Linked DNA regions of Homo sapiens. The protein of the gene in region 2 interacts with the protein of the main gene of each other region in a pairwise test. Each region holds a gene or a part of one and is shown on either strand. Other genes may lie near its edges.

Region 1 (5,361 bases), on a different chromosome or scaffold from region 2:
TCTGCCAAACTGGCTGTAGTCACACCTGGGAAGGAGACAACAGCGACTGGCTGGCTGACACAGCTGGCCCCATGGCCCTGACGCAGGGGATTTAACAAGAGTACTGCTACCTACTCACTAGGCCAGATGCCAAGCCCTGGGGTGGGCACCAGCCTGGGAGCAGGAGCTGGCACTGAGTAAGGCTCAGTCAGCCCTAATGGGATCTGAGGAAGGGGCTGGTCTTCTCTGCAGGTTTGGTAGGGTCCTTGGACCAAGGTCTTTGGCCCATGCAGGCACAGCTGCCAGCTGACAGGGTGTGGGTTAGAAGTCCCACAGGCTGGACTGCAGCAACTGGCCTTGTCTGGCCAAGGCATCTCCCAACCCTCACCTTCCTGTTCCCCAACTATTCTGGCTCTGGGCTTCAGTAGCTTGAGGGTTGCCTTTGCTTTGAAATTTAGAAAGGGAAGGTGGATTAGAACACTAGTCTGCTCCTTCTGAACCCTGGGACTGTAATGTGGTAGAAACAGGATAGGCTTTGCTGTTGGCCATCCCTGGGTTTGAAGGCATCTCCACGTGATCTTGTGCAAGTGACATCACTCCTGTGAGCTTCAGTTTCCCAGGAGACCTGTCCTGGGCCAGGCACAGTGTCTCACGCCTGTAATCCCAGCACTTTGGGAGGCTGAGGCAGGGGAATAGCTTGAGTCCGGGAGTTCGAGACCAGCCTGGGCAATCTGGCAGGATTCCATCACTGTAAACAATAAAAAATTGCTGGGTGTGGTGGCACGCACGCACCTGTAGTCCCACCTACTTGGGAGGCTGAGGTTGCAGTGAGCTGAGATCGTGCCACTGCATTCACTGCATTCCACCCTCAGCTACAAAATCAGGACTCTCTCAAAAAAAAAAAAAAAAAAAAAAAAAAAAAAAGAAGGATGGAGGAAAGGAAGGTAGAGAAGGGTTTGGAAAGGCAGAAAAAAATTCCATATTAAAAAAAAAAAGACTTGGCCTGGCATAGTACCTCATGCCTGTAATCCCAGTACTTCGGGAAGCTGCGGCAGGTGGATCACCTGAGGTCAGGAGTTCAAGACCAGCTTGGCCAACATGGTGAAACCCTCTCTCTACTAAAAATACAAAAATTAGCTGAGTGTGGTGATGGGCGCCTGTAATCCCAACTATTCGGGAGGCTGAGGCAGAAGAATCACTTGAACCTGGGAGGCGGAGGTTGCAGTGAGCTGAGACTGCACCACTGCACTCCAGCCTGGATGACAGACTCAGACTCAAAAAAAAAAAGACACCTGTCCCCATAGATTCTGGCAACAAGGTCCAGTGCTCGGCACTCATTAGATGCCTAGCCTCCTTCTGCCACCCTCTGTGTTCCTGATGGCCAGCTGCTTACGCCCCATTCTCCGTGTTCCTTGTGGCCAGTTGCTTACCCTCCCATTGCCATGACAATATCTTCCCCTGGTAAAGTTGCTCCTCCCGGAAGTCTTCCTGGAGGGCGCCGCCCGCCTCTGATTGCCCCACCACAGCTTGCCTTCTCAGCACTTAGGTGCATTCTTTGTAGTAATTCCCTGGGAGGCAAGGAGAACAGCCTGGTCTGGAGCTGGGTGCTGACTTGGCAGCAAGGCAGGGTTGCAGAATCACTCAGGACAGGAATGCTGCCTGGTCACTTTCAGGACAACTTTGGGTTACTGAGAAAACTGAATGTCCCCAACCCCCAGCTTCACTCTTCTCCCTACCTGGTACCTCAGCGGAGGGACCACTTATAGGTTTATCTGTCCTGTGCCATCAGGCCTGGGGACTGTCTGAAGGCTGAGAGTTTTCACTGAGCCTTAGCTGTTTCACCACTGTAAGCCTCAGTTTCCTCATCCGAGAGCAAAAAAAGTATATAATTTTTGCCTCACTGGGTCCTTGTAAGGATGAGTTAGGATGAGTGCATTGTAGTCAAAAGGACATAGGTGAACTTGAGAATCCCAACTAACCTGGGTTCTGGTCTCAGCCTGACCGCTCTGTGACCTTGACTTTACCTCTCTGCACCTGAGGTCCTCCATCTATCAGTCAAAATAATACTCAAATGTAGGATTATGGGGAGGGTTAATGTGGTCATGAATGTGAACTGCTAACCATATTCCCAACACGTTTGAGCAGTTAGCACAGTGCCTGATACAGAACTGTTTTACTAGCAGTTTGAGAGGTAGAATAGCACGGTTAAGACTTAAACCACCGAGCGCGGTGGCTCACGCCTATAATCCCAGCACTTTGGGAGGTGTGTGGATCACGAGGTCAGGAGTTAAAGACCAGCCTGGCCAAGATGGTGAAACCCTGTCTCTACTAAAAATACAAAAATTAGCCGGGCACAGTGGCAGGCCCCTGTAATCCCAACTACTCGGGAGGCTGAGGCAGGAGAATCACTTGAACTCGGGGGACGGAGGTTGCAGTGAGTCGAGATCACGCCACTGCACTCCAACCTGAGTGGCAAAGTGAGACTCCATCTCAAAAAAAAAAAAAAAGACTTGGACTCGGAGTTTTATTCCCAGCTCTGCATTCACCAGCTGTTTGCCTTTGAGCTAGTTACTTGGCCCCTCTGTACTTCCATTTTTGCATCTGTAAAGTGTGAATAATAGTATCCACCTCACAGGGTTATTGTGAGGATTAAGTGACCTGCTGTTTAGTAAATTCTATGCAGATGTGTGCTATTATCATTGCTATTCTTCCTGAGTCATTCCTCCAGATGGGCCATTCTCAGATTAGGTTTAAAGAGTTAAATGACTCCCCCCCAACCCCCCCACCCCCACCCAATAAAAAAAAAAGTTAAATGATTTTCCAAAGGCATAACAGCTGGTTAGGGGCCAATAGTGGTTGAAGTTACCGTGATAAGTAAACGGAAGTCCTTGGTGGACCCCTGAGGCCCGCTCCTGACACCTCTCCTTCCTGCTCTCCCCTGCAGGTGGTCCGCAGCACCCTGGAGGAGCAGGGACTACATGTGCACAGTGTGCGGCTGCATGGTTCAGCTGCCAGCCACGTGCTGCACCCTGAGAGTGGCCTGGGCTACAAGGATCTGGACCTGGTGTTCCGGGTGGACCTGCGCAGTGAGGCATCCTTCCAGCTGACCAAGGCAGTGGTGCTGGCCTGCCTACTAGACTTCCTGCCGGCCGGTGTGAGCCGGGCCAAGATCACGCCACTGACACTCAAGGAGGCATACGTGCAGAAGCTGGTGAAAGTGTGCACAGACTCGGACCGCTGGAGCCTCATCTCACTGTCCAACAAGAGCGGCAAGAACGTGGAGCTCAAGTTTGTGGACTCGGTGAGACGCCAGTTTGAATTCAGCATAGACTCCTTCCAGATCATCCTGGACTCCCTGTTGCTCTTTGGCCAGTGCTCGTCCACTCCCATGTCTGAGGCCTTCCACCCAACGGTCACAGGCGAAAGCCTGTACGGGGACTTCACCGAGGCCCTGGAGCACCTGCGGCACCGTGTCATCGCCACGCGCAGTCCCGAGGAGATCCGAGGTGGTGGCCTCCTCAAGTACTGCCACCTCCTGGTGCGGGGCTTCCGGCCCCGGCCCAGCACCGATGTGCGCGCCCTGCAGCGCTACATGTGCTCCCGCTTCTTCATCGACTTTCCAGACCTGGTGGAGCAGCGGCGCACCCTAGAGCGCTACCTGGAGGCCCACTTCGGTGGGGCAGATGCAGCCCGCCGTTACGCCTGCCTGGTGACACTGCACCGGGTGGTCAACGAGAGCACCGTGTGCCTCATGAACCACGAGCGCCGCCAGACGCTGGACCTCATTGCCGCACTGGCGCTGCAGGCACTGGCTGAGCAGGGCCCAGCTGCCACTGCCGCCCTGGCCTGGCGCCCTCCAGGCACTGACGGGGTTGTGCCAGCCACTGTCAATTACTACGTGACCCCCGTGCAACCTCTCCTGGCTCACGCCTATCCCACCTGGCTGCCTTGTAACTGACTCAGACCCTGGCCAGAAGGGAAGGGACTGGGCCTCACGGGGTGGGGTGGGGCCTCCAAGAGTGTGTGGAGGACATGACCAGAGGCGCAGAATGTGCCAGGAGGCCCAGCACTGCAGGGTTGGGCCTTTGATTGAACAGACCAGACTTTCCCGAGCACGAGGCCCCTGTGGGCTTAATGCCAGCCTGGGGCTCTCAGCAGGAGGACCCTTTGGTTATTGCATCACACTTTTGGACCAGCATGCCGGTGGGGTGCAGGCGCCATTTGTCTTGGAAGTCAATTTCCTTCAGGAGACAAAGCAAGTTTGGGGTGGTAGCCTTAATGCCCAGCACCTTGGATTGATTCCCATGGTCTAAGAGGGTCTTTTTGACTAAGGCCAGCCTGTGGTGATCCCAGCAGCTTTGGAGGGCCTGCAGCCCACACACTGACTGATACATGGTATGTTACAGGGACTTGTCACTTTGGATCAGGCTGGGCCACTACAGGGCCTGATGGGCCAACTTGGGTAATCACTGGGAGGAGGGAAACTGAGGCCCGAGGCAGATACCTGGGTTTGGGGAGGGCTGGGTTTAGCCCGGTTCTCTGAACTACATACCCCCAGCTGTGAAGCCTTCCTCTTGAGGGGTTGAGGTGGGCAGTATACAGGAGCCAAGCAGCCCAGGGTGGGTCGCAGCCCAGGCCCCTTCCAGGGTGCCACTCCTTTCCCCCTTGTGTTGCAAGGAGCCCTCCTGCCTGGGAGCTTGTTCTTTGGAAGGTGCTGAGCCTGAATTTGCCACAGTCAAGTCAACGTTCCCACCCCACTGGCTTGGTTACAGGGCTCTCACATGGGGTAGGGGAGCCATACTCCCACCCCCTTGCGTATTCCCCTGGGTTTGTTGATATTTTGCACTCTTAACACCTGCCAATAAAGACGGTCTACACTGAACCTTAGTGCCATGCTTCCTCTGGGGAAAGAAGGACCTTCCGTAGCAGTGGGGGTTGCAGCTGCCTCCCCCAGTTGGAGTCTGGCTTGTACTGTGGAAGGGAGCATTTGCGGGGGCGGGGTTTGAAGCCTGGGCTATGGCTGGGGGACTGCCCCTCCTTCTCCCAACCCCAGCCGCAGCCTGACCAGCTGTATATTAAGAGCTGCTGTCTACATGTGTGACCTGCACGTTGCCTTAGCAGGTCTAGGGCTCTTGTTAAGGAGTAAATATTTTTATGTTTTCTACCTGGAATCCAAATAGCTCTGGGCCTAGACTCAGACTCTGGTGCTCAGGGGTACTTGTTCCCAGCTCTGTCTACCCCGTCTCTTCCAAGGGAGCAGCTAGAGAACAGGCTGGGTGAATCTGGACTGGAGGCCCCTCCAGTAAAGGTGGCTGAGACTGGGGAACTTGTAGGGTTCCCCCTAAGCCTGAGCCCAGGTAGGGCCTCTATTTGGGAGAGGCT
Region 2 (7,030 bases):
ATTGGGTGAGAGCTCTACATGTAAGAACATTTCCATATTTCTCAAGGGTACATCTGATATGATTTTACGATTCTCTATAGCACTGTAGTTCAGAATTTTGCAAGGTAGTACGATTAAACAAAAAATCTCCAATCTCCAGTTTAGAGGCTGTTTAAACACATATACAACTGTATTTTAAAGCTGTCGCATATGTGTTTAAACAGCCTCTAAGCTGGAGATTTTTGTTTATTTTCGCAGCCTCCAAAGAACAGCATTTTGAAAAGAAAAGACAATACAAAAACATAAAGTCTGTATTGTAGGGGCAACTAAATTAGTTGTACTGAGGATAATACAAACTCCTCCAAGAAAGACATTTATAAAATTATATTAAGTTAGATCTTAGGGTAGAAAAGCATGACTTTTGTGCTCTGAATTTAAATCAGAAAGAAGTTGCAGTTACTAAGTTTCATTTATGGACTTTTGTGCCTTGCTGTCTTAAGCAACGTAAATATGAAAACCCGGAGTCCTTTAAAGTCAGTGAGACCTTTATCTTGTATCCGCCATTTTGAAGCAATCTCTCATGGTGTCAAAGTTTCAAAGTAGAGATCCTTGCATATAAGTGCCACATTTTAGGAAAATAAAGGCCAGACTTGCAAACTGCCAGTCTATATTAACATCTACTTTGAATCTCTTTGCTGGGGTGGAGGCGGGGAGCTCAGCTGAAGAAAGTAAATAACTTTTCTTTTTCTTCCTTTCTTTTCCCCCTTGAGCTCTTTTTCTTATAGGATTGTAGGAAACTTGAAAGGTAGGGAGAAATTCTACTAGTTTCACAACTTTGGGTGTTTGTGTATCTACTTTCTTCAAAACTAAAATGTGCAAAAGGCAGTTAGAGTTAACAGGAAACTCTGCTGCAGCTGCCGAGGACCCAAATGTCTGAAAATTTGCCTCCCGCAGGATCTGCAGCCTCCACACATCAAAATCAACATGGAAGCAGCTTGCACTACAAATGTGGGGTCCCGTCATTATCTGATTGGTGGGATTCTAACTTTACTTCACAATTTCTGGCAAGCCCTGTGCCAATCTTGAAGACTTTTTTGGAATATGCTTAAATATTTGATGGGTGTCTATTAAAAGTTAAATACTTGTTTGTTTAGCTTTCGTTCCTTAGACACATATAATCAAGATTCTCCAAAACCCTAATAAATCTGTTACTTACCTCGAAATCTAATTACCCAGACTACTAATTAGGTGAAAATGATTACCGGAAATGACTTCAAATGTGGAATAATAGTGGTTGAGCGGTTTTTCCAAGTTTGTGGTTTAGTGAGTTGGTATTTTAGATGTTAAACGCACTGACATTTTAGGTTCGCAGCAGTTGAAAGTGGTAAAAAGCTAAGATAATTAAAATCTCTGCCATGGAAAGGCAACAGTCTGGGGAGAGGTAGATTTCTTGAATTGTTTCTTTGTTTCTCACCAATGGGCTTTGTTATCAGCATTATTTATTTAGCCAAAGAGTTCTTTGTCTCTGCAAATGGCCCCAATCAAGTTTTGTTTGAGACAATTAGCTAGTGCCAGCCAATGAGTCCTATGCAAATGTAGGGATAGGAATGCAATGTGTGCATTTGAAGGCACGGGTTTTTGTTCTTGGGGAAGGCAGATTGTAATTGCTTTCTTCGGGTACTTTTTTTTTTTTTTTAAGTTTAGGGTGGGGGTGGGGAAGACAGGTTTATCTGGTCTCCTTCCATCCCCTCTAGTTCCAGAGCAGCTGGGGGTGGGGGTGGGGATGGGGGTGGGGGGAGTGTCTGCAAGTCCTTTAAAAGCCTCTGCCTCGCCTAGTCCGTGCTCTTTTTAAGTTAGTGCTGGAACGTGGAAGAGCTGCTGCCTCCGAAGCAGTAAACCAGCCCCTCTGTTTGTTTGTTTGCTTTGCCCTTAGTTCCACTGCTCCAAACCCACCCACCAAGGACTCTGAACCTGTCCACCCCGGGCGCATCAAGATCTTCCAGCTGGGTACCCCCGATTTGGGCCGACTTTGCACCTCCAAACAACCTTAGCATGATGTCTTATCTTAAGCAACCGCCTTACGCAGTCAATGGGCTGAGTCTGACCACTTCGGGTATGGACTTGCTGCACCCCTCCGTGGGCTACCCGGGTAAGTGAGCCCTGCTGCACTCCCGCACCCCTCTTCCCCATGCCCACCCTCCGGGGATGCAACACCCTGTTCCCATGGAACACGGGGGTTGGCAGTCACACTGTCCCCACCCAGCTTCAGGCTTGGTCTCCTCTAGGTTTGCCTTCTGAGGAAGCAGTCCCAGGGCATTTACTGACCAAGCAGAGAACAGGGGTTGGGAAAAGTGAGTAGGTGGGTCTGCAACCGTTACAATCACATCACTTTATTCTTAATTCGAGTAAATAAGGATTGGCATCAGAGTGGGATGAGGAAGGTTACTGTCCTTGTCATTTGGGCAAAAGACCCCTACCCATATCTCAATGACCAATTCCTCAGAAGTGTCCTCTTGGAGAAGCTGAGTTTTCCCTCCGTAAGTCCTTAGCACTCTCGGGCTTCGCAGTTGTTCCCTCCATGCCCAGGCCTTCCCCTATGACCTCCAGAGCCTGCTTTAATCCCAAGAGGCGTGACTTCCTCCAAATGCGGGTGCTTTCCTTTCCAATCAGATATGTTTAAAAATCCTCCCAGGAGTATGAACTATGTCCCCATTTTAAAGATGGAGGAACAAAGGCCCATGGTGTGCTAAAAACCATGGGAACAGGATCCAGATTTCCCCCATCAATTCGAGCTGCCAGTCTGTCCTCGGAGATCCTTTGACTTCTTGGAATAGCCTTTTTGTGTTGTGGTTTGGGGGTTGATCTTGGAGAACTTTTTTGTGTGTCTTTTAAAAAATGTTTCATTTGTTAACTTTCCAAGTGATGCTCTGATTGGAGCAATCTCAACACCAAGAAGAGTAGGGAAAGAAGCAGCGTGTGTCCTGGGTCCCCGGGGAGCAAGGCTGGGGAGACGGTGGGGAGAGCATTGGTAGGCTCCCGGCTGAAGGGCTGTGAGGAACGGGGGACTGCTGCGGGGTGGAGGGCAGGGGCGTCGGAGAACCCGCGGAAACGCCTATGACTGAGAAACTGCTCCCCCACCCTAAAGGGCCCTGGGCTTCTTGTCCCGCAGCCACCCCCCGGAAACAGCGCCGGGAGAGGACGACGTTCACTCGGGCGCAGCTAGATGTGCTGGAAGCACTGTTTGCCAAGACCCGGTACCCAGACATCTTCATGCGAGAGGAGGTGGCACTGAAAATCAACTTGCCCGAGTCGAGGGTGCAGGTAGGGCAGATGCAGGCAGAACCATCCTTCCTGATCATGCCACCCTTCCCGAGTATGGGACTGTGGAGAGCCCCAGGTCTTTCAGAGGACTGAAGGAAGGCTTGAAATTCTCCTTCACTCACTAAGGGGCCAGGAAACTATTCTCCTTCTGCCCTTTTTTGCCTGCCCGTCACCACTTAATCCCGTAAGCAAGGGTCTTCAAGGCCCGGGTTGCTGGTGGAGAGAGACCCATCCTTGAGCAGGTTTCAAGAGTAGTCACGTGGTGTTGTAACCCTTCCCTTCCTCTGTATAGAAATCCTCTCCTATTCTCATGGACTTGTACGTGTGAAAGCAGCTTAGCTCTTGGACAGTCCAAGTATTTTTACAGATGAAAAAATAGAGTAAATGACTTGCTCAAGGTCATAACTAAGTTTGGTGGCAGAGTCAGGGTATAGACGCAGCTGGTGCTTTTACCAAATAAATCAACACAAAAAGAATGTATTTTCCTTGACTTCTTAGGGATTGAAGAGAATTTTCTAGTTCTGAGCCATTTAACAGATAAAATATCTACATAATGTCTCTAGTGACACCCCTCTTGTTTTAGTTCCCCTAAACTTGACCTTAAACTGGAGAGGGAAGGTCAACTCCAGCTTGCCTTGTGAGTGAGCCCTGTACAGAATTCTCTGCAAAGTGTTTAGCACATAAACCACATACACACCTGGGCCTCTCCTTCGGCTAGAATATGTTTATGAAAGCGACAGACATCAGTGTCAGCTGCAAATTGGGAAAGGGGCTTTTTCAAAGTAGGTTAGAGGAAGTTTTAGCACTTGCAAGGCTTGAACCAAAGTCCTCACTAGGAGAAAACAAATGGCTCCAAATGGTTGGTGGTCTTGAGCTTGGCCTTGGTGGCCTCACTTTTACCACAGTTACGGCACCCATACAGAGAGCTCATTCAAAAGTTCAGCTAAGGATTTGTCCTCCAGAAAATGCCAGTAGTTCCTCTTCTAAGCCCCCTCGTACACCAATCATAGCTCCTTCATTGCAGAACATGAACAGGGCTGGTAAAGAGAATTGTCAAGATTGCAGCAGGGGGTTGAAGTGGTAAGTCAGTAAACACAGCACAGGAGACTGAGTCTATGTGCTGAGTGGCACTACTCTAACAACACAGACTCGAGTCCCAGAGACTAGCAGGTCTGTGCTCCAGCTCAAAGCAGAGTGCATGTAAGTCACTCCTTTTACCACAAAGAAGCTTTTAGCAAATAGTGGCTTTCAGACCTCTTTCTTCAACAAGATCATGTCTTCCCCTTGGAGCTTTGTTCTGTGAGTCTTTCTAAGAGAGACAGAAGGGTGATGGAACCAACCAACCTCTATATTAGCAGTTGCTTCCTGGAAGATGAACTGTAAATGAATTTAGGCTGTTCCTGTTAGCCTGTAACAACAGAATTGCTTTCTCTCACTTCTCATGTATTTCCCTCCAAAAGACAGAGATACATTCTATTCCTCTGTGAGAGTGTTCCAAAATATAGCTGGGTCTATGTGTATGTGTGTGTTAGAGGCGAAATAAGATAGGAAAGTGATGTGGAGAGTTTTTAGCTATATGATTTGGGGGATTATCTTAAATGTTATTCTGGGCAAGAAATAAGACAGTGTCAAGTGTTTTTAGACAGAGCCTCCCCAACTTTCTTACAAGTCCAGGAGTTTATATGAGAGTACCACATAATAGGTCTTCAGTGGCAGGGGAAATTGTGTGTTTAGCTGATCTGCCCATGTAGGATAGATTTATAATACGGGAGCCATTCTTGTCCTTAAGGAACTATCAAAACCGAGTTAAAGAATTTTCTTTCCCTTCCAAGGTATGGTTTAAGAATCGAAGAGCTAAGTGCCGCCAACAACAGCAACAACAGCAGAATGGAGGTCAAAACAAAGTGAGACCTGCCAAAAAGAAGACATCTCCAGCTCGGGAAGTGAGTTCAGAGAGTGGAACAAGTGGCCAATTCACTCCCCCCTCTAGCACCTCAGTCCCGACCATTGCCAGCAGCAGTGCTCCTGTGTCTATCTGGAGCCCAGCTTCCATCTCCCCACTGTCAGATCCCTTGTCCACCTCCTCTTCCTGCATGCAGAGGTCCTATCCCATGACCTATACTCAGGCTTCAGGTTATAGTCAAGGATATGCTGGCTCAACTTCCTACTTTGGGGGCATGGACTGTGGATCATATTTGACCCCTATGCATCACCAGCTTCCCGGACCAGGGGCCACACTCAGTCCCATGGGTACCAATGCAGTCACCAGCCATCTCAATCAGTCCCCAGCTTCTCTTTCCACCCAGGGATATGGAGCTTCAAGCTTGGGTTTTAACTCAACCACTGATTGCTTGGATTATAAGGACCAAACTGCCTCCTGGAAGCTTAACTTCAATGCTGACTGCTTGGATTATAAAGATCAGACATCCTCGTGGAAATTCCAGGTTTTGTGAAGACCTGTAGAACCTCTTTTTGTGGGTGATTTTTAAATATACTGGGCTGGACATTCCAGTTTTAGCCAGGCATTGGTTAAAAGAGTTAGATGGGATGATGCTCAGACTCATCTGATCAAAGTTCCGAGAGGCATAGAAGGAAAAACGAAGGGCCTTAGAGGGGCCTACAAACCAGCAACATGAAATGGACAAACCAATCTGCTTAAGATCCTGTCATAGTTTTAGATCATTGGTTATCCTGATTTGCAAAGTGATCAAAAGCATTCTAGCCATGTGCAACCAAACACCACCAAAAATAAAATCAAACAAAACTAAGTTGTGAAGGAAGGGAGGGAAGGTCATAGCCTTCTTAAGCAGAGGTGTTCCATTGTTTTAGCCAATCCTTGGTTGAATCTTAGGAATGAACAGTGTCTCAAGCTCATTCACGTTTCATGACCAACTGGTAGTTGGCACTGAAAAAACTTTTCAGGGCTGTGTGAATTGTGTGACTGATTGTCCTAGATGCACTACTTTATTTAAAAAATAATGTTCATAAGGAGTCAATATGTAGTTTAAGAGACAATCAGTGTGTGTCTTATAAATGGTACATCTGTGGTTTTTAATCTGTGCTAGACTTCAAAACTGTGATCTCCTGTTATTGTATGCAACCTTGAACTCCACCTCTGCAGGGGTTCTTCTGTGATTAAATAGGTTATAATTATAAGCAAAATTCAGAGCAACTGAGTACTGATCTAAAAAGATTACCTTTGGCTGGAGGTGAGCTGCACTGAAACTTTACGACAAAATGTCTCTGGACAAAGAGAGTCAGAGAAGAGAAGCAAAAGGACACTAATTCATCTGTAATTTACTGTTGGTAAGCCTAGCAGTAAAGAGACATTGGTCAATTGCTCTGACCCTGATGAATTATTAAACTGAGATCATTGTCGTTTATGCTTGCAGATGTTAAATGGAAAAGTTATATATGCATAAACCTTTTCTTCCTGGATTTGGCAGATATGTATAATTATATTAAAATGGTTCTAGCACAACATTGGGTCCAGTTTAATTTTACACCGCTATTTATGAATAAGAAGCCTACATTCAGCCTTTCCTCCCCAAAACACGTTTTTCTTAGGACAGAGAGTAAATTAGCAAACTTATTTTTACTTTTTTTTTTTGCTAATCTATGCATAAAATAGATATGAATGACAGTGGTAGGTAGACTTTTTGTGACTTTCATCAGGATTGCTCTGAAATTGAGTTTGGAGAGCCTAACAACAAGATCTTGTTTTCCTTGC
Region 3 (7,030 bases), on a different chromosome or scaffold from region 2:
TAAAAAACTCCAGCTGCTCATGAATATAGGGTCAGGGAGGGCCGGCTAAATGTTTCTCTGTGCTTTCTCTCCAGCACAGCCAGCAGAGCTGTTTCCTGTTCTTTGTTTCAAGGCTGGGGTTTGCGTCATACATTCCAAGTGGCATATGTGTGCTCTTTCCTGTTTCAGGCTGTTTTCTGGTAGATCAGTAGCCCAGACCAGGCTGAGGTCCCTGCCCCTAAACTCCGTATCCCCACCCATGGAGTTATCATGTCTCTACACACTTGATATTGCTTAAGACGCCTGTGTTATGTCATAATGAGAAGTCAGTTAACCTTTTTACGTACACCCTTTGCTCCACTGCATTTGTCTGGGTGAATAAATGCTTTTACCTTTTTAAATTTTTTATTGCTAGATTGTGATTTGGGGAAACGTGGGTCCATCCTGGCAAAGAAACCTAAAGGAGTTTTGTTTGTATTTGTTTGTAATTCTTGTGTTGAAGTGGTTAGGGCGTTTGTTTTAAGATAGGCATTTTGCCCTGAAGCTGTCAATTTTGGATCAGGATTAACACCTTACAGTTTAGAAGACCTAGCATTATCTGAAAGATGTGGCCCACCCTCGTTCACGTTTAACCCAGGCTGCTCCAGGTGGCTTCCGTGGATGGAGAATTTAAGCAATGTTGGCAGCCTGGCTTTAGTTTAAGTCTTGCTTATGTTTGGAAGGAGAAATCTTTAGAAAAATCATTGAAGCAAAGCCTAAGACATTGAGAAAATCCCGGGATTATTTCTTTTTAAGGACAAAGATTTAAATATCAGGATAATGTTTTAAGGACAAAGATTTCACTGTGCAATATTCTACACCTCATTTCCAACCCGTTTTTAAGAATTAAAAAGCTCAAAGGAGAACTGGCATTAACAAATTCATTTAATGCTAGATTGTTTGGAAAATTTTAATCTTCTATTTTGAAAACAAGAAGAATGCTCTTCTCATTTTTGTTTTACAATAATATTTTTCATTTTTTAAAAATATTCTATCAGTTGTGGGTTAATGAATTTCTAGGATAACTATTTAAGACCTGCCTTAATATTAGTTTTCTGTTGGTTCTTGAGAAACTAAGATTTAAGGAAATATTTGCTTGAAAAAGAAAAGTTTTGGAAAGTGCTTTTGTAAACTTACTTGGGGATTTTTTTTTTTTAATCAAAAGGAATCATCTACAGCATCTCTGTGGAATTAATTTAAAGAGTTGCTGAAGCAGCAAATCAGGCTCTCTTCTCCCCAAAATTGATGATAATGGTGCGTTTTAAATGTCACATTCCACCACATTCTTTATGTATAAATGGAAAATATAAAATATGATATTAAGAGAGTTATTAGTATCAAATAGTTGGCTACTGATAACCTTCTATGAAAAAAGCTGGGAGTTTTAGAAGTCCCAATAACTTCTTTCTCCTTTGGGAAAAGCAGCTGGAAATACTTAGCTGACCTGTAGGACAAGAGACTTTTAAGCTTAAAATTCATAAGTAACTCCAATCGAAGCAGGTTTTTTTGTTTGTTTTGGTTCCAAAGTTGTTAACAATCTAACTAGGTTTGGTAAACAGAGTCTTTATTTGGCTTTCCCCAAATTCTTTCTTCTCTCTTTTGCAGGGAGATGAAGTGGTTAATAGAGATAATTAGGGTCTAATATATTCTATCAGAAAAAAATTCTGCAAGCTTCTAAATGCTAAGCTGAATAGTTGGGGAAAATTATCCTATCTTATAGTTGCTATGATTACCAGAAAGATGGGAACAAGAGTTTTAATTTCTTAACCATATAAATCATGATTCCTAATTTAATTTCATTGTGTCTCCATCGCCCCTTGAGATACTTGCCTTCTTAATATTTTCAAATCAACATTTTTGCTATAAAACGACAGATTTCTTAGGCAGCATTTCTTGTTCTCTGTTTTCACACCCAGTTGAGTTTAAGAAAAATAAAATACACACAACCTCATTCTTTAAGGTACTAGGAATTACAATTACATTATTCTGGAACTTGGATTCTTTCTGAAGTGCATCATTTATCATTGGTTCTAGCTTTTTAAAAAAGCAAATCCCTAGAATCTTAAAACAATTGATATCTAGTTTGCTAGTATGTGATATTCTAGTCAGAATTCCTCTTGGGAGTGAGTTGGAAGAGGGTTATGGTGGTCGCTAGCATTCTCATTTTCAAGACCACTCTGTTCCTTTCTTAGACCATGTTTCTCATCTTAAGCAGTCATGCCCGAGCTGGAGACAGGAAACCAGACAGCAGTCTGCCCTGATAAGGGACAGCATTGTCTGAAGGCGGGGAATAGCCCTGCTTTTACCCCCAACTCAGCTCTCTTTGCTTGAAATTTAGTAGTCATAGAAGAGGCACAATGCTGTTGACAGTTTCTGAACCAAAACTAGGATTCATTTCTTCCAAAGCAAAAAAATAGTGTCCTCGGCCGGGCGCGGTGGCTCACACCTGTAATTTCAGCACTTTGGGAGGCCGAAGTGGGTGGATCACCTGAGGTCAGGAGTTCGAGACCAGCCTAGCCAACATGGCAAAACCCCATCTTTACTAAAAGTACAAAAATTATCCGGGCGTGGTGGTGGGCGCCTGTAATCCCAGCTACTCAGGAGGCTGAGGCAGGAGAATTGCCTGAACCTGGGAGGTGGAGGTTGCAGTGAGCCGAGATTGTGCCACTGCACTGCAGCCTGGGCAACAAGAGTGAGACTCTGTCTCAAAAAAAAAAAAAAAAAAAAAAAAAAAAAAGATGTCCTCTTAACTGGCCTTGTCCTTATTCTGTAATGAATGTGACCATATTCTCTGGAACAGTAAGAAAATAAAAAAATGATCTGTGCATTTTGTATCCGTTGGCCAGAGAGTTTGTAGTAAAATTGTTTCTTTAGCAAAACAGGCTCCTGGAGGTTTTTGAAACTCACTCCATTGTGTCGGCAGGCTGAATTCATTATCATTTCTCCATCTAATTATTTAGAAGGGCTGGAGACAGAAGAGAGCAAGTTAAGTGGCCCTCTAGCCCATGCATTTCATGTAACCCCTGGGTCTGGCTCTTACCCTGTTTCCTGTAAGGGGGCGCTCCCTGAGGCAGACCCTTTGCAGGAGGACCCAGAATTGCCCTGCTTAGTCTGGGACATCCTCAGGATGGTTGCCAGTCTCTGGAAGGCTTGTGGATCCTGCCAGGGATGGCCCAGAGCTAGTCTCAACCCAAATCAGTGGAGTTTGGCCAAATCTGGACATAAGAGATCAAATGAGTATTGAGGTCAGCGGATTCTGCCCTGGAGAGCGACCTGCAAATCAAGTGTGGGGTTTTTTCTCTGGCCTATATGCTGTTCTTTCTACTACCACTGTTGTTTAAGTGTAATCACTGAAATCCACTCCTTTATCTGTTCCTGTACTTTGCATCCCTGGTACCTTCCAAAGCTTCACACTCCAAAGCCTCTTTCATTTGTAAGATCGAGTTCCTGTTCCGCTGAGTTTCCAAACCAGGGAGTTTTTCTCTCCCAGGCTCCCAAAGTTTTCACATTTACTTTGCATTTTAGAAGATGAGGTTTCAGGCTGGCTTCACCAGCCGCTGGACAGAGTTTCCATGTAGGACACCTGGTGTACCATCATTCCAGGGCCCTTGCCCTTAATTTATCCTAGCATGTGAGAAGTGTAGTTTGACATCCATTCATTTATTCATCTCACAAGTATTTATTGAGTACCTACTTATTAGAGCTAATCTCAAATTATGTGCAATCATTACTCTGAGTTATGCCATAGGATGGAGTAGATCTACAGTGATCTAACCTGAAAAGGCATTTTGAAATCTTAATTGCCTGCTGGAACCTCCCCCTGGCACTGCTTCCCATGGGCCAGTGTGGCTGTGCACACCCACACCCTCCCTACTGGGGAAAGACCCCAGCATTAGGCGATTTTACCTAAAAGTCGGTCCCACAGCACAGGCTCTGAAGCAGAACAGAAAGTGCCCGGGTCTGCAGGCAGACACGCTTCTGTTCCTGGCTGCAGCTCCAACCAGCTCTGTGAAATTGGGCGAGTCATTTCACCTCTGTTCCTCCATTTCCTCATTTCTAAAATGGGGATGAGGACCTGACCCTTCCACCTTTGTGCAGTTATTATGAGGATTTCCGTATTTACTTGGGTCAAGCTGCCAATTTTTCTCAGCAGTTATATCGACAATGCAGGTGCACTGGCTAGGAAGAATAATTGCCTAATTTGGGGCCTTCAGAATGTGTCTTTTGATCTTGCATCCAAGTGTGCGTACTGAGACAGGGTGGGCAGCAGGGGCCAGTTGGAAGGAGTGGAAACTGTCACTAATGTAAACAGACTGTCCCCACGTTCTGTCTTCTCCGGGGACCAACCTGTTCACAGAAATCACTATCATGTACTTACTGTTGGTGGTGTAATGTTGTCCTCTGCCTGGGGAGGTGGAAGAGTGGTGTGCCAAGGCCACCAGTCTTAAGTCAGACTACCTTGGGTTCAAGTCCTGGCTCTACGAGTTAGCAGCTGTGTGATGTTAGGCAGGTTACTTGACCTCTCTGTTTCAGTGTTCTTTTCAGTAAAACGGGAAGGTAGTAACCACCTCATTGACATTAAACAGCGCCTGGGGATTGCCAATCACGAAGGTGGTGGTGATTGGCAGGAAACCTGTGACATCACTTAGCCCCTTGCCTTCCTTGATCCCTTTTCAAAAACCTGTGTTTGTGCACACACCCCTTCCCCTTGCAGTTCCCCCCCACCTGCCTCCTCTCCTCCCTTTCTCGCTTTCTTTTTTCTATTTTAGATTTTAAAGTACAGTAGAGACCTCGACACTAGACTTGTTTAGAAGACCTCACTGAGTGGATAATAATAAATTATTTGAAGATGGTACTAATAAGGTCTCTGGAGTACACATGATGGGCCAGGCTAAGGTTAGGGGCAATAACTTTTCCTTAGGAAGTTTGGTTTACTAGGTCTCCCTTAGAGTTAGGCCCTTCATCCCTATTACTTGTTTAAGGGAGATTTCAAGTGCATTCAGAGGGAAAGGGAGATGATTGTGGAACTCCTACTATAAGCTAAGTGCTCTTATGTTAGCTCCTTAGGCTTGACATAAAAACTTCATTCAGGGAACAAGCCCGATCTCCTGTGGGGAGTGGGGAGGGAGCCCTCTCAGGAAGGCTGAGGCCTGCCTGTCTGTCCTTCCCAGTACTGGTGGCGGTGTGGGACGCACCACTGGGAAAGCTAAGAGGCCTAGACTATCTAGGTAAGAAGAGGCGGCCTTGGATCCCCCAGGGAGCAATCAGCTGGCTGCACAGAGTGGGGAGGGCCTTGAGCTGGTCTTTGAAGAATTAGGGGGATTTAGATAAGCCGGAAGGGGAGGGGGCATTCCATTGCCGGTTGCCCAGCATCAGGGCCAAAAATGAACAAAGGCCTGGGGGTGGGCAGGGCAGCCGGCATGAAGGGCACTTGTTGGAGCAGGGGGCAGCTCGTGGGTAACGGGGTGCCAAGCATGGGTGCCTGAGCCCACTGTCAGACCCGGGGAGTGCACGGGAGGGAAGGTTGTGAGCTGGAGAAGGATGGGATGAGAAGAGATCTGTGAAAAACGTGGGTGGCAAGGGGTGAGGGCTGGACTGGAGAGGCTGAGGGAGACCAGTGGTGGAAAAGCTGCAGCAATGCAGGTGGGAGGCGCTGAGGGCCTGGCCCCCAAGGCAGGAGGGGAGAGCAAAGGAGGTGAGGAAGGCTTCAGAGATGGCCTCTAGGTTTCCATGGTGAAGGACCAGAAAATAAGGCCAATGGGAGGCGGGGAGGGGGCAGCCTTAGAGGCAGGAACAAGGAGGGGTAGGGTTGGTTTGGGCCACGTTGATAGCAGTGGTTCAAAATGCTTTTCTCTTTCTTTTCTGCTTATTTTTAAAGGGAGAGGGTAGGCTTCGCTCATGGTTTTGTATCCAAAGTTTCAGTGGCTCTCTGGGAGGAACTTCAGTGGAGAATCCTCAGGAGCAGAGGAATGATCACAGCCCCATGGTTCCTTCTGGTTATTTTTAAGATTCTAACCATCCCTGTTCAGGCCGGAATTTCCAGGAACTGGCTGCTGCCCAGCGCCAACTGGTCCCTCCCAACCTCCCACTCCCTGCAGGGTGGGGCCCCATGGGTGGAGGCTCCTTAGGGTGGAGTTGGGTGGGTCTCCAGTGATAGGGAGGGCACTGAGCAGAGGCAGATGAGAGGCAGTGTGGCCTCACGCAGCCCTTCTGGATTTGATTATATAACACTTCATAGAGGAGAATTGTGAGGGCTTAGGCGAGGCCTTGTGAGATATGTACACAGCAGGATTAGACATTATGGGTATTTTTCAATTTATCTTGGGTTGCCTGCCCTTAAAACTAAAACACAAAATTGTCAGAGAGCATAAACAAGTGTGTAACCCTAGTAGGGAAAATGATTCGAGTTTGCTGCAGTTTCTCTAAGAAGGGTGTGGAATGCCACTAGCCAGATGGCCTTGAACTTAGAGGGTAGCATAGGTGTGGGTGTCCCCGCCCCCAGCCCTGCTTTGCTAGGCCTCAGTTTGGAAACTTGTCAGGCTTCTGCTTGGTTGTTACCTTTGCACCTGTCCTTATTGACATGCAAAATCAATTGCTTCACTTGGTCTTTCCGAAGTACAGGGTGTGGGCAGAATCTTATCTGAAGCCATGTCCTGTTTGGACAAGTTGGACTTGCCTTGGCAACTCTCCATAGGGTGGAGCAGATGGGTGGAGGCAGGAAAGTAAAATTGGGTGGCTTGTTAGCAGAGAGAGGAGAGAGGGTGGGTTGTTTGCTCACTGGATCATTATATTTCATCTGAAATGAAATAATTAACTTCTTTCCCATTTATAATACACATTAATGCAAAATAACTAATTCATGAGGGGCGAAGATTTAGAAACACCCCATGGAATTTTTCTCCTTTTCAAACCAGTCATAGAAGAGTAGGACAGGTGAAAATCACAGAGTGGCATGAAAATTTCCAAGAATGTCTAGGTAGGAAATTCCAGGTAGGTGCCAGTGCTTAGCTTT

The links. Proteins that work in one complex are often made in the same cells at the same time.
Region 1: the proteins of OTX2 (region 2) and TENT5B interact in binary tests that used the Homo sapiens proteins (3 or more experiments, as listed by UniProt).
Region 3: the proteins of OTX2 (region 2) and KLF3 interact in binary tests that used the Homo sapiens proteins (3 or more experiments, as listed by UniProt).

What each region holds. Positions count from the first base shown.
Region 1 is NC_000001.11:27,004,520-27,009,880, reverse strand, and holds the end of TENT5B (terminal nucleotidyltransferase 5B), read left to right. Parts: intron 1-2,923; coding exon 2,924-3,937; 3' UTR 3,938-4,861; downstream 4,862-5,361. UniProt on the Homo sapiens protein: Catalyzes the transfer of one adenosine molecule from an ATP to an mRNA poly(A) tail bearing a 3'-OH terminal group in an ATP hydrolysis-dependent manner.
Region 2 is NC_000014.9:56,800,458-56,807,487, reverse strand, and holds part of OTX2 (homeobox protein OTX2), read left to right. Parts: intron 1-1,820; exon of another isoform or gene 1,821-1,912; 5' UTR 1,913-2,031; coding exon 2,032-2,128; intron 2,129-3,124; coding exon 3,125-3,300; intron 3,301-5,132; coding exon 5,133-5,753; 3' UTR 5,754-7,030. UniProt on the Homo sapiens protein: Transcription factor probably involved in the development of the brain and the sense organs. Can bind to the bicoid/BCD target sequence (BTS): 5'-TCTAATCCC-3'.
Region 3 is NC_000004.12:38,667,169-38,674,198, forward strand, and holds part of KLF3 (Krueppel-like factor 3), read left to right. Parts: intron 1-7,030. UniProt on the Homo sapiens protein: Binds to the CACCC box of erythroid cell-expressed genes. May play a role in hematopoiesis.